Linked DNA regions of Homo sapiens: region 1 is linked to region 2. The links come from fine-mapping of genetic effects on gene expression. Tissue or cell type: whole blood. Region 2 holds a variant in brackets; the other region holds the start of a gene. All regions are shown on one strand. Distances are from middle to middle.

The links.
Region 1: YWHAQ starts here. The variant in region 2 is fine-mapped to the expression of YWHAQ in whole blood (TOPMed, PIP above 0.99).

Annotation. Positions count from the first base shown.
Region 1 is chr2:9,628,570-9,633,946 of GRCh38, forward strand. It overlaps YWHAQ (tyrosine 3-monooxygenase/tryptophan 5-monooxygenase activation protein theta), which reads right to left and starts at 2,428. Exons shown (of 6, transcript NM_006826.4): 1 at 2,372-2,428; 2 at 1,590-1,965. The coding sequence starts at 1,883. RefSeq lists enhancers at 1,014-1,916, 1,660-1,759 and silencers at 1,880-2,229, 2,430-2,529, 2,580-2,749.
Region 2 is chr2:9,583,479-9,588,855 of GRCh38, forward strand. It overlaps YWHAQ (tyrosine 3-monooxygenase/tryptophan 5-monooxygenase activation protein theta), which reads right to left. Exons shown (of 6, transcript NM_006826.4): 4 at 4,687-4,850; 5 at 3,936-4,031; 6 at 489-1,867. The coding sequence ends at 1,808. Among named protein-coding and RNA genes, the nearest start is that of ADAM17, 30 kb to the left of the region's middle. The variant A/C (reference allele first, on the strand shown) is at 2,931.

The sequences.
Region 1 (5,377 bases), 45 kb after region 2:
ATGCTGTAAGAGTATCCAAAATACATACATAGAAAACCTTAACATATGGAATTCTTATGAGTCTTCCCTTGGTAACAGATAATGCTGTTAACAGCCATTACCATATGTTACTCAAGTTGAAGTCTACCACTACTTTCAAGTTGGCAAAATTTTTTAATACGAGCAATTCAGTCCAAAAAGCTTTTACAAGTGCTTCTTCAATGCCAAGCAGGGACTGGAAGCTAAGAGCACACGGAAGAATACAACGAAGTTTTGACTTCATAAAGTAAATAATCTTAAGTTTTCTCCACTTTAGTACACACTGTCTGCATTACTTTCTTTGCCTCTTTACCAGTTATTTCCATCAGCCATGATTTTGTCCGGATCGCCTGTCATCGTATTAGAAAAATAGATAGGTTAAAAAAGTTTCGTGGATTTTTTTTTTTTAAACAAGGGGTGGGGAACATATTCCCTGCCCCACCATTCTGATGAGATGAAGAAAGGCGGCTTGGGGGGTGGGGGTGGGGGAGGAGGCCAGGGAGAAATTATTTCTTCCATTCCCTTTTGAAAAATCCCCAGTCTAGTATGCTTGTCTATCAAAGCCCACCTAAAATATGATGTGCACAAACACATCAAAAATAAGTAGGCCTCTTGTAAAAGTGACACTTAAAAGGCAAACCATATGAGATTATTTCCCATTTTATTCATAGAAATGACTCTTGGCAGCACTGAAACATTTAAAAACACTCCTGGATATAATGCTGGTATTTCAGTTTTAAAAACTTATCCTACGGATCAAAAGATCCATGGAATGACAAAGCTAAAAATGTTCTCTCTCACTAATAAGGGTGAATCACAGCAGCCACCTACTCCACCCAACAATCGTCCTTGCTAAGACTGGACAGTTCAAAACCTGGAAAGCTTTCCTTGTCTGCTCCACACTGGAAACGAATTCACTTCAACACTAGTGTTTAAGCACAGGTGTGCAACAGCAAGGAAATGTTATTAAATGTTGAAATTTACCAGGACATTGTGTTCTTCAGATACAGCTGTGTCCTTTTCACATTTCCCGAACTCCCCTCCTCTCCTGTTTATGGGGGGTGGGGGGGAGCACAACAGATACTCTTACTTGAAAAATAAAGTATCTGTTCAGATTTTCTAAGTAAATTTCCATTACTGGGTTTGGGAAAAAATCCCTACTACATTGTCTGTAACAAAAAGGTGCCTGCGCCTTCTTTCAACTGCCTGAAGCTTGTGAACCGACTGAATACATTTAAAGGGCTCACAGATCTCAGGACGCAGTCTCCCCGCACAAGAAACTTAAAAACGCCTTTCAGTCTCGCAGAGACCTACTTGGATGTTTCCAAGTTCCATCGTTTGGTAGCTACCCAGCATCTGGGGCGAAAAAAAAGGACTTATCCTTGGAAAAGCGGCTTCTTGAGTCTCAACAACCGGAGGGACACAGTAGGGAAGTCAGGGCTCACCTAAAACCCTCCACCCCAGCAGACAGTCCGGCAAGCCCCGGCTCACGTTTGTTTCCGTGCCCGCGAAACTCTCAATGAAAAGCATCTCACAAAAGGCCTCCCCTGCTCCCCGCGCCGAGGACTCACCAGCACCGTGGTGCAGATGGATCTCAGCTCGGACTCCACTTTCTCCCGATAGTCCTTAATCAGCTGCAACTTCTTGTCGGAGGTGTCGGTCTTCTGCTCGATGCTAGAGATGACCCTCCAGGCGGACCTGCGGCCCCCGACCACGTTCTTGTAGGCCACGGAGAGCAGGTTGCGCTCCTCGTTGGACAGCTCGGCGCCCTGCTCGGTCACTGCCTTCATGCAGGTGGCCATGTCGTCGTAGCGCTCGGCCTGCTCGGCCAGCTTGGCCTTCTGGATCAGCTCAGTCTTCTCCATGGCGGGCGCGGGGCCGGGGCCGGGGCGGAGGGCGAGGAGAGCGAGGGCGAGCGCCGACCCGCAGCGGGAGGAGCCTCGAGAGCTGCGGAGGGGCGGGGCGGCGAGGCGAGAACAAAAAGCAGAGAGGGAGCGCCGTCAGACAATGCGGCCCGCCGCCCGCTTTTGTCTCCCGCACACGCGGCCGCTTGAATTTCCCTCTCCCCCGCCCCCTCCCCCGCTGGGCACCCGGGGAGGCCGCGGCCCGCGGCTGGAGGAGGCGGGGGCGGCGCGGAGGCCCCGCGCGCAGGGAGCCCGAGCCGCGGCCGCTCCCGCCACCCCCGCCCGGCCGGCCCAAGATGGAAGCGACCGTTGGCCCCGCACCTTCCCGCCCGGAGCCGTCCCTGAGGGGAGCGGCATCGACAACCGGCTGCTCTCAAGGGCGGCACCTCCGCCCGGCCCTCAATCCGAGCGCGGCCGGAGGAAGCCCGCGGGCCGACCCAGGCGCTCACCTTCACGTCTCCGCGGCCGCGACGCGAGTCCCACCACTTTGATCTGCTTTTGGCTTTAGCTGAGGACCCTCCCGTGTCAGCCTACCCCGGGGCCGAGGGGCGGTCCACCGCCCAATGATGCGCCGAGCTTCTCCCGAGAGTCCCGCCCCCAGCGCGCCGCTGGCCAATGAGGACCGAGCGCGCGGAAGGGGGCGAGGGGGGCGGAGCGGGAGGGAACGCGGAGGCTAGGAGGGTGGGTCGGTACGGGGAAGTTCGGTTGGCCGGCAGGCTGCGGCTTCGGCCACGGGGTTTCCTCCAATTAGATCCAGGGTAAAAGGACGTCACTGTTGCCATGGCGATGCCGTTACCAACTCCCCTCAGCCTCCCCGCCACCCCGGCACTTCTGGGTGCGGCACGAGACCCAGAGGCGCGCACGACCTCCTAGGCGGCGGCTGCGTCTCCCGCTGCGGATGGTGCATTGCATCTCACGGGCTCTGGCCGAGGCTGGACTTCGGAGGGTGACATATTCAGCTGTTTTAGAGCACGGGGGCCTTTCTTTCCTCCACCTTTCTATCCGTGACAAAGGTTTGGATCCCAAGACACTAAACCCAGACCTTAATGACGTTGCCATTAGGGCTCCGAATTAAGCAAACCGCATCCCCATTAAAGAAGAATTGATTCTGGAGACGGTGTCTTCAGTATGGCATTTACATGATAAATTCAAGTTTTCAGATGGGCATCCTAAAACAAAAAATTCCCTTGTGAAAAGGTAGGTCCCAGAAGATCCAGGGGAGTTTCTGTGACAATGCCAAGTATTGTGGTTTTCTTTAAAATGAGAAATGACATTAAGCACAATTTGCAGGAAAACACCTATTACTACCCCTTCCCACCCCCGCAAAAAAAAACCCTGCCCATAACATCTCTCCCCGCAAAAAAAAAGCAATTTTTATGTATCTTTTAGGCTTTCCAGGTTATGCACCTAAATACATCATTTTTCACATCGTTGTCACATGTGCACACGCTTTTGTTTCTGGTATTATTTGTGAGAGGTCACTTGAAAAGCTGAAATCCTCTCCCTGGATGTTGATTTCTGATTTTCTCCTCCTGGGGAACACCCTGCTGAAGCGAGAAAGATTCCCCCAGGCCCCTCCCATTCAGGGTCATCCCTGGCAGCTCCCTTTCCTCTTAAACCACTCCTGTCTCTCCTTGCACTTCCCCAGTTCCCTAACTCCATCCAGGTAGGGTGGCTGCCCTGCCCGTCTGGCGCGTGGTCCCTGTGCCATCTTAAGATGAGAATTGCCCTCTGGGTTCACGCTGCTATGATCCCGATTCCAGCAGGTCTAAGGAGAATGGATCATAAAGAATTTCCCATTCTGAGTGGAGACTGGAGCAAATCCGGAGAATCTCTAGAATGGGAGATTTGAGAGTGCAGACAGATGGGAGGAGAAGGTGCCGACTTTCCAGAAATTCAGACTCCCTCTTGACTGCCCCTCCCTGTCCTGACTTGTGAAGGTTGCTTTGTGCTTTGACAGACAGGAGCGGCCTGGATTGGAAAGGGCCTGTGTCTTAATGCAGAAATGCCTTACTATGTTCCAGCCTTCTAATGGAGGGCCCTGCTGTTATTTCTGGAATCCCTGGGGCCCCGCTACAGACACATGAGTGTTTATGGCCCTGTGGGCTGGGGTGGAGCTGGACACCGAGAAATCCCAATGGAAAGAATTTGCATGTGGAAGGTCAGATAAAATGCCTTCTGTATGACCAGTGAATTTCAAGCTCACCAAAATTAGAGGCAACCCGGGCAAGGGGAGAAGCCAGTGGAGGTGGATGGGGGATAGAGACCCAGGAGAGGAAATTGTCAGGGGATGGAACCTCTGTGGTAGAGAGGGACTACCAGAAGGAGCAAGCACACTAAATTCTTTGTCAGAAAGTCTAGGCTGTGCTGTGGTCTCCCCCAGTGACCTTGGGCAAGTTTTTGCTGCTTTCTGTACCTTAGTCTCTGAAATTTCTGCTTTCATTCAATCAAATATTTATTGAACACCAACTCATCTAGTTGCAATCATCTGGAATCATGGGTAAAAACTGCTTCCAACCAATAACACAGTATAAAATTGCATTTTAGGAAGATTCAGAGGACCCTCTACATAGCTAAAGGCTTCTGTGCCTGAAAGAACTCGGGTTGGAGAGAAACAAGGCTCTGGGAACTTGAAGTCCCTGGACACAGAAAGAGCTAACCTGTGTTGAGTGATTGCATATGTCAAGCACTATTTTAAGTCTTTTGCAAGAATTAACTTATCCAATCTGCTTAATGCAACTACAAAGTAGGTGTTATTATACTCACTATCTCTATTTCACAGACAAGGAAATTAAGGCACAGGGTGGTCAAGCATGACGTACAGGGCCACACAGCTAGAGAGCGGCAGAACCTTGGATATGGACCCCATGCAGTTTGGGTGCCAAAGCCCATCTTTTTAACCACTGCTGAGGCTGCCTCACCAAGTCTCCCCAGATCTCTGCTAGATGCTGTAGAGATCCTAGGATGGATCAGACCAGCCTCTGTCTTCTAGGAGCTTCACCCTAATAAATGTGAAACCTGTTAAGCATCACATCCAACATACTGGGAAGAAGTGCAAGGAACAGACAGCTAGCAAAGGGAGTACTGAGAAATTATTACTTTATTTATGAAGTTCTTATTATTTTTTCTAAGTTACCTGGTATGAAGAAGCTCCTGGAACAAAAAGGAGCACATTAACATGGAGCCAGAAGACCCTAAATTCAGCCCTGCTATTTATATGTGATTTGACCTTGGATACCTTGATCTTCTCTGAAACTCAATTCTCTCTACCTGTAATCTATAAAAATAATCCCAGCTGGGCACAGTGGCTCATGTCTGTAATCCCAACACTTTGGGAGGTCGGGGTGGGTGGATTGCTTGAGCCCAAGAGTTCCAGACCAGTGTAGGCAACATGTCAAAAACCTGTCTCTACAAAAAACATAAAAATTAGCTGGGTGTGATGGCGTATGCGTGTA
Region 2 (5,377 bases):
GCTATTGTGATACTATAAAACCAAAATTATTTTGAACTCACTAATAGTAAGATTGAATGTTTACAAACAGAAGCATAGAGTCCCCAACTTAATTTTTTGACTTTACAATGGTGTGGAAATGACAGGCATTCAGTAGAAAGCATACTTCAAGTACCTATACAATCAATGGTTTTCACTTTCAGTGTTCAACAAATTACCTGAGAGATCCAACGCTTTAGTATAAAGTAGGCTTCATGTTCTTTGATTTTGCCCAACTGTAGGGCTAAGTGTTCTGGGCACATTTAATGTAGGATAGGTTAAGCTATAATGTTCATTAGGTCAGGTGTATTCAGTGCAGTTTTGACTTCGTATTTTCAACTTGCAATGGGTTTATCAGGGTGTAGCCCCATTTTAAGTTGAGGAGTATCTGTGTCTGAACTCTTACATTCCTTTTGAATATCCACTGAAGCACAATTCTAATAACAGCCAAGGCACTCACAATCACATAATTAACTTTGCTAGTTTTAAAATGTCCACTTTATTCCATATAACACTTAACCAGATATCATTTACATCTGAGGAAGAGATGGCCCATGAGACTGATCTATAGTAAAACACTCTAAGAAATGCAGTCCAATTTTATACACTTCCAGGCATCCCTAGACAAGTGTGTCACAATGCACAATGTGGAAATATAGGTATCACTACTACATTTTACATAAAAGGGAAGTATCAATAAACTTTAGAAAGTAGTAAATTCACCTGTCCCTTAAAATATGGGTATGCAATTGTTACAAAGCCATAGTAAATGGTTTATAAAATGTACTTTTATTTTATGTTACTCTGCTGTTACATAGGGCATAACATTTTCACAAGGCTTTTTTGGGACTACAGTCAATGATTAGCAACACACAATAGTGGTCCAACTCTCTAAATAACAATCACTAGACAAACTGGACACCCTCTCACATGTGCACAAATCTGCATGGAAAAGTACTAAAGTTTTAGACTTGGACTTGTGTACTTTAATTTATTTCCCCTTTCTAGTGTATTAAGAAATGACATGCACTTTAATTTGCCAAAAGCAATGCTTGTATTCTGGCAGCAACATGCTACTTCTATCACATAGTAAAGTGAATACCAGAACTACAAAGGCAGGAGGTGTAAGTGAATTTTTATTGGGAGGGGAGGTTGGCAACTTAAACAGCAGCAAATAAAGAGTGAATAAGGAAACTCCCTGTTGCCACAGATACACAAGACCTCCGTATGTGATACAGGAGCCATTTCAATTTGTGACCCCTAGACAGAGATGGCAAGTGCTTTTCCATTCAATCTAATACTTCCGGATTCCTACTAAAAAGGAATACATTAAGAGCATGGAAAAGTTGCTTACTGAAAGGAAACCCCCGAAGAGTAAGGGAGGGAATGTAGAAATTAAGAAGTTATGTGGAATACTCTTTAAATTGTAATTAACTACATTTTCTTATTTTCACAGTAATACAAAACACAGTCACTTGCAGAACTGGTTCAGATTACTTAAATACCAGATACATTTTTAGTCCTCTACATAAGTGTTTGGGAGTTACTTATGTTTATATGAAATGAAGCTATTAATACTTTTCTACAGCAGTACTGCACACCAGGAAGGCCAAGACAAACACAAATCAAGGAATGAAGTTTTCCCAAAGCTGCAGTGTGAAAAGACTATAAACAGTTGATTCCATACACATGAATGGGTTTCTTTGCTATAGGAAATCCAAGTGGAATAAGGAATGGAGATGTGTAAAAAGGTTTCTTGAAGGAAAGAAGGATGACACCCTGTATGGATTTAGTTTTCAGCCCCTTCTGCCGCATCACATTCTTCTCCTGCACTGTCTGATGTCCAAAGCTAGAAAAAGAAGAATCATATTAAGTTACTATTTCTAGATTAGGCAATTACACTAAGTAGTATTGTTATATCAAAATTAACTACAAGAGTAGTAAATTCCTCAAACAATGGAGATCTTGACTAAGACTGAAGTTCTCTCTCAAAACCCCAAAGACCATCACCTTCCCAAAGTACATCCTTGCAGACCTTTCACTATGCACTTACAAAATGACATACATACATACATACATATACCACTGGAGCATGGTTTTATAGCTTCCTTTTTATTTAAAAAGCATTTGGCCAGGCACAGTGGCTCACGCCTGTAATCTCAGCACGTAGGGAGGCCAAGATGAGAAGATCGCATGAGGCCAGGAGTTCAACAGCCTGGACAACATAGCAAGATCCCACGTCTACAAAAAATTTCAAAAACAAAATTGGCCAGGTACGGGGTGGTGTGTGCCTACAGTCCTAACTACTCAGGAGGCTGAGGCAGGAGGACTGCTTGAATCCAGGAGGTTGAGGCTGGAGTGATCCATGATTATGACACTGCACTCCAGCCTAGGCAACAGGGTGAGATCCTTTCTCAAAAAAAAAAAAAAAAAAGAGAAACTTTTTTAAAAAGGCACTCTACTTTCAGAATAAGCAAAGTGATAGTCTCTATTCCCAGCAGCCCAATGCTCTTCTTGAAAGCACTACTGCATTATTATTACAGACTAATAAAGCAAAACATTTTCACAGGGAGGAAAAAGCCACAATCATGGTTAACAATTTTCAAGTGTGTGAAGGGCTAAACTATAGGAAAAGCAGACTTACTTTGTGTTTCTCCAAGAATTAAATAGAAGTGGGTGATGGAAGCTACAGGGAAGCAATGTGTGCATGTATAGACAGGGTTCTTGAATTAGACAGAATGTTAAAACTAAGTGGATCTTCCAGGATCTCTCTGATTTTAGGATAGGAAGATGAAGTGAAGAAGAGAAGTCAGTATTTATTGACTATAATTGCACTTTATTAGACCAACAGCAAGACATTAGTGTTAATTTCAGAAAAGCCAGAATCTTACATAATCCTTAGATTATTATGA[A/C]GATACTAAATAAAAACAAACAAAACAAAATCCCCCAAAGACCTGTCTCCATAATAGAGATAACAAAACAAAACCGATTAAAAGATAGTTAGCTCCAAGGTATACATCTGGGAAGAGGTATAACTGCCTAATTTGCTCTTCCTCTGTAGAACTATTTGCTGATCATCTTCCATTGTCCCCTCACAACCACAGGCACTTCTCATGGCTAGAAATGCAGGGTCTTCGTTCCCCTTTCAGTGGATTCATAATTACCCTATTCAGCAAAATTGAATAGACATGGTGCTAATATTTAAAAAATCCTATCTAGTAAATGATAAAGCACCAAACTAGGGGGCTGGGAGGACGAGATCTATATTAAAAGATTTGTTCCCTTCTTTTTCCTTCTGTGAAGTCTAAGATTTTACCTATCAAATTTACTTGAACCTACAAAAGAATGTTAAAGTAAAGCTTAAGCTGTACTTTTTCTTGATTACTTCCTTTATCAATTGCCTATCTAAGAAGCAGGGAGAAAAAGACAAACAAAACAGAAGCTTTTGCCTAGAAGCAGAGAAGGAGTAAGTTTAGGTATAGGTTTACTCCCTAAATGCTTGTAGAACATCATGCACAATTCACAAAGTAAACTTTTATTAGAACAAGGTACTTCCTGTGATTTTAAGAAAGCGTAGATATTTAGATAGTCCCTAACTGGCTATAGCTGATTTGCCCCAAAATATTGAAACTTGATAAGCTCTTTATTAACATAATTTATCAACATCTTCATCCCAATGAAATAGTAATATTAATATTGAGTTCCTATCATGTTAGAACCTTCTCAGGAAGGTCTGATAAAATGCCTATTCAACTTGAAAACCTGCCTACAAAATAATGTTCGTCCCATAAAATACTAACACGTATCTCATACTTTCAGCTCGTATGTATCTTCCCTAAAAGACACGAAGTCCAAAATAAAATATAAATACTTTTGTTTCTGAAAAGAAAATAAAATTAAAAGAGTAAACAACTCACTGTTAGGTTGTCTCTAAGCAACTGCATGATGAGGGTGCTGTCTTTGTATGAGTCTTCATTCAGTGTATCAAGTTCAGCAATGGCCTCATCAAAAGCCTGATAAATATTAATATCCATGGTAAAATATGTGCATTGACGAAAACTGGTTATTCTACAATTACAAACCATTTTTACAAAATAAGTGAACACCCACCTTATGTTCTACCATCAACAAACTCAACAGAACCATTCTCTCACACTCCCAGTTTAAGAACTTATGAGTATGACTGGAATTTTATAAAACTATACACTTAGTAAACAAGCATGTCTTGGTTCTTTCACAGGACAACGGAACAGCAGCAATGCTTAACAGACTTCTTTCCAGTTAAGTAGTACTTATCTCTACAGGGTCCTCTTTATTCTCTCGTTTTGAGCCACTTTGAGGAATGTGGCTGATGCACAGCTATTCTAGTAACCAAACCTGGCAGGCATGACTTTCTAATCTTTTATGTTTCCTTCTTAACATCATTTATCCTTCTTTGATTACTCTGCTCAGTATGCTCTGTAGGCACATCACTGCTTATAATCATAGGGTAGAGTAAGGTGTCAGGGGTAGGAGTAGGTAATCATGATGGGAAGAAAAAGAGGAGATTTCAAAATAAATATAGTAGAAATCATCCCTGGGTATCCAAGTAAAATACCTATAAATTAACATACCTGGTATCTCAAATAACTGTAGCTAAAGTACGTATTTCCTGGACACACATCTTACCGTTTTAGCCAGCGTGCAGGCAAGCTCTGGGTTATTAAGAATCTCATAGTAAAATACAGAAAAGTTAAGAGCAAGCCCCAGGCGGATTGGGTGTGTGGGTTGCATCTCTTTCTTGCTTATATCAAATGCCTCTTGGTAAGCTCCTTGGGAATTATCTATCGTTTCTGTGAAGAGCGAAAAATAAGAAGTGCAATATTAAAAATAACCATCCAGTACACAGTACATTAACAACTTGAACATATGCTACTAGCTCTTGGTAGAACCAAGATTTTTTCTCTGTATGGGTCTTTTAAAATCATGGTAGCTAACAAAAAACATTATCGTGGCCAGGCGCGGTGGCTCACGCCTATAATCCCAGCACTTTGGGAGGCCGAGGTGGGTGGATCACTTGAGATCAGGAGTTCAAGACCAGTCTAGCCAACATGGCGAAACCCCATCTCTACTAAAAATACAAAAATTAGCCAGGCGTGATGGCGGGCATCTGTAATCCCAGCTACTCAGGAGGCTGAGGCATGAGAATCGCTTGAACCTGGGAGGCTGAGGTTGCAGTGAGCCGACATCACACCACTGCACTCCAGCTTGGGCAACAGAACGATACTCTGTGTCAAAAACAAACAAACAAAAACAATATTGTGTACTGGGTATTTAAGAACTTGTTTATGGCCAGGTGCAGTGGCTCATGCCTCTAATC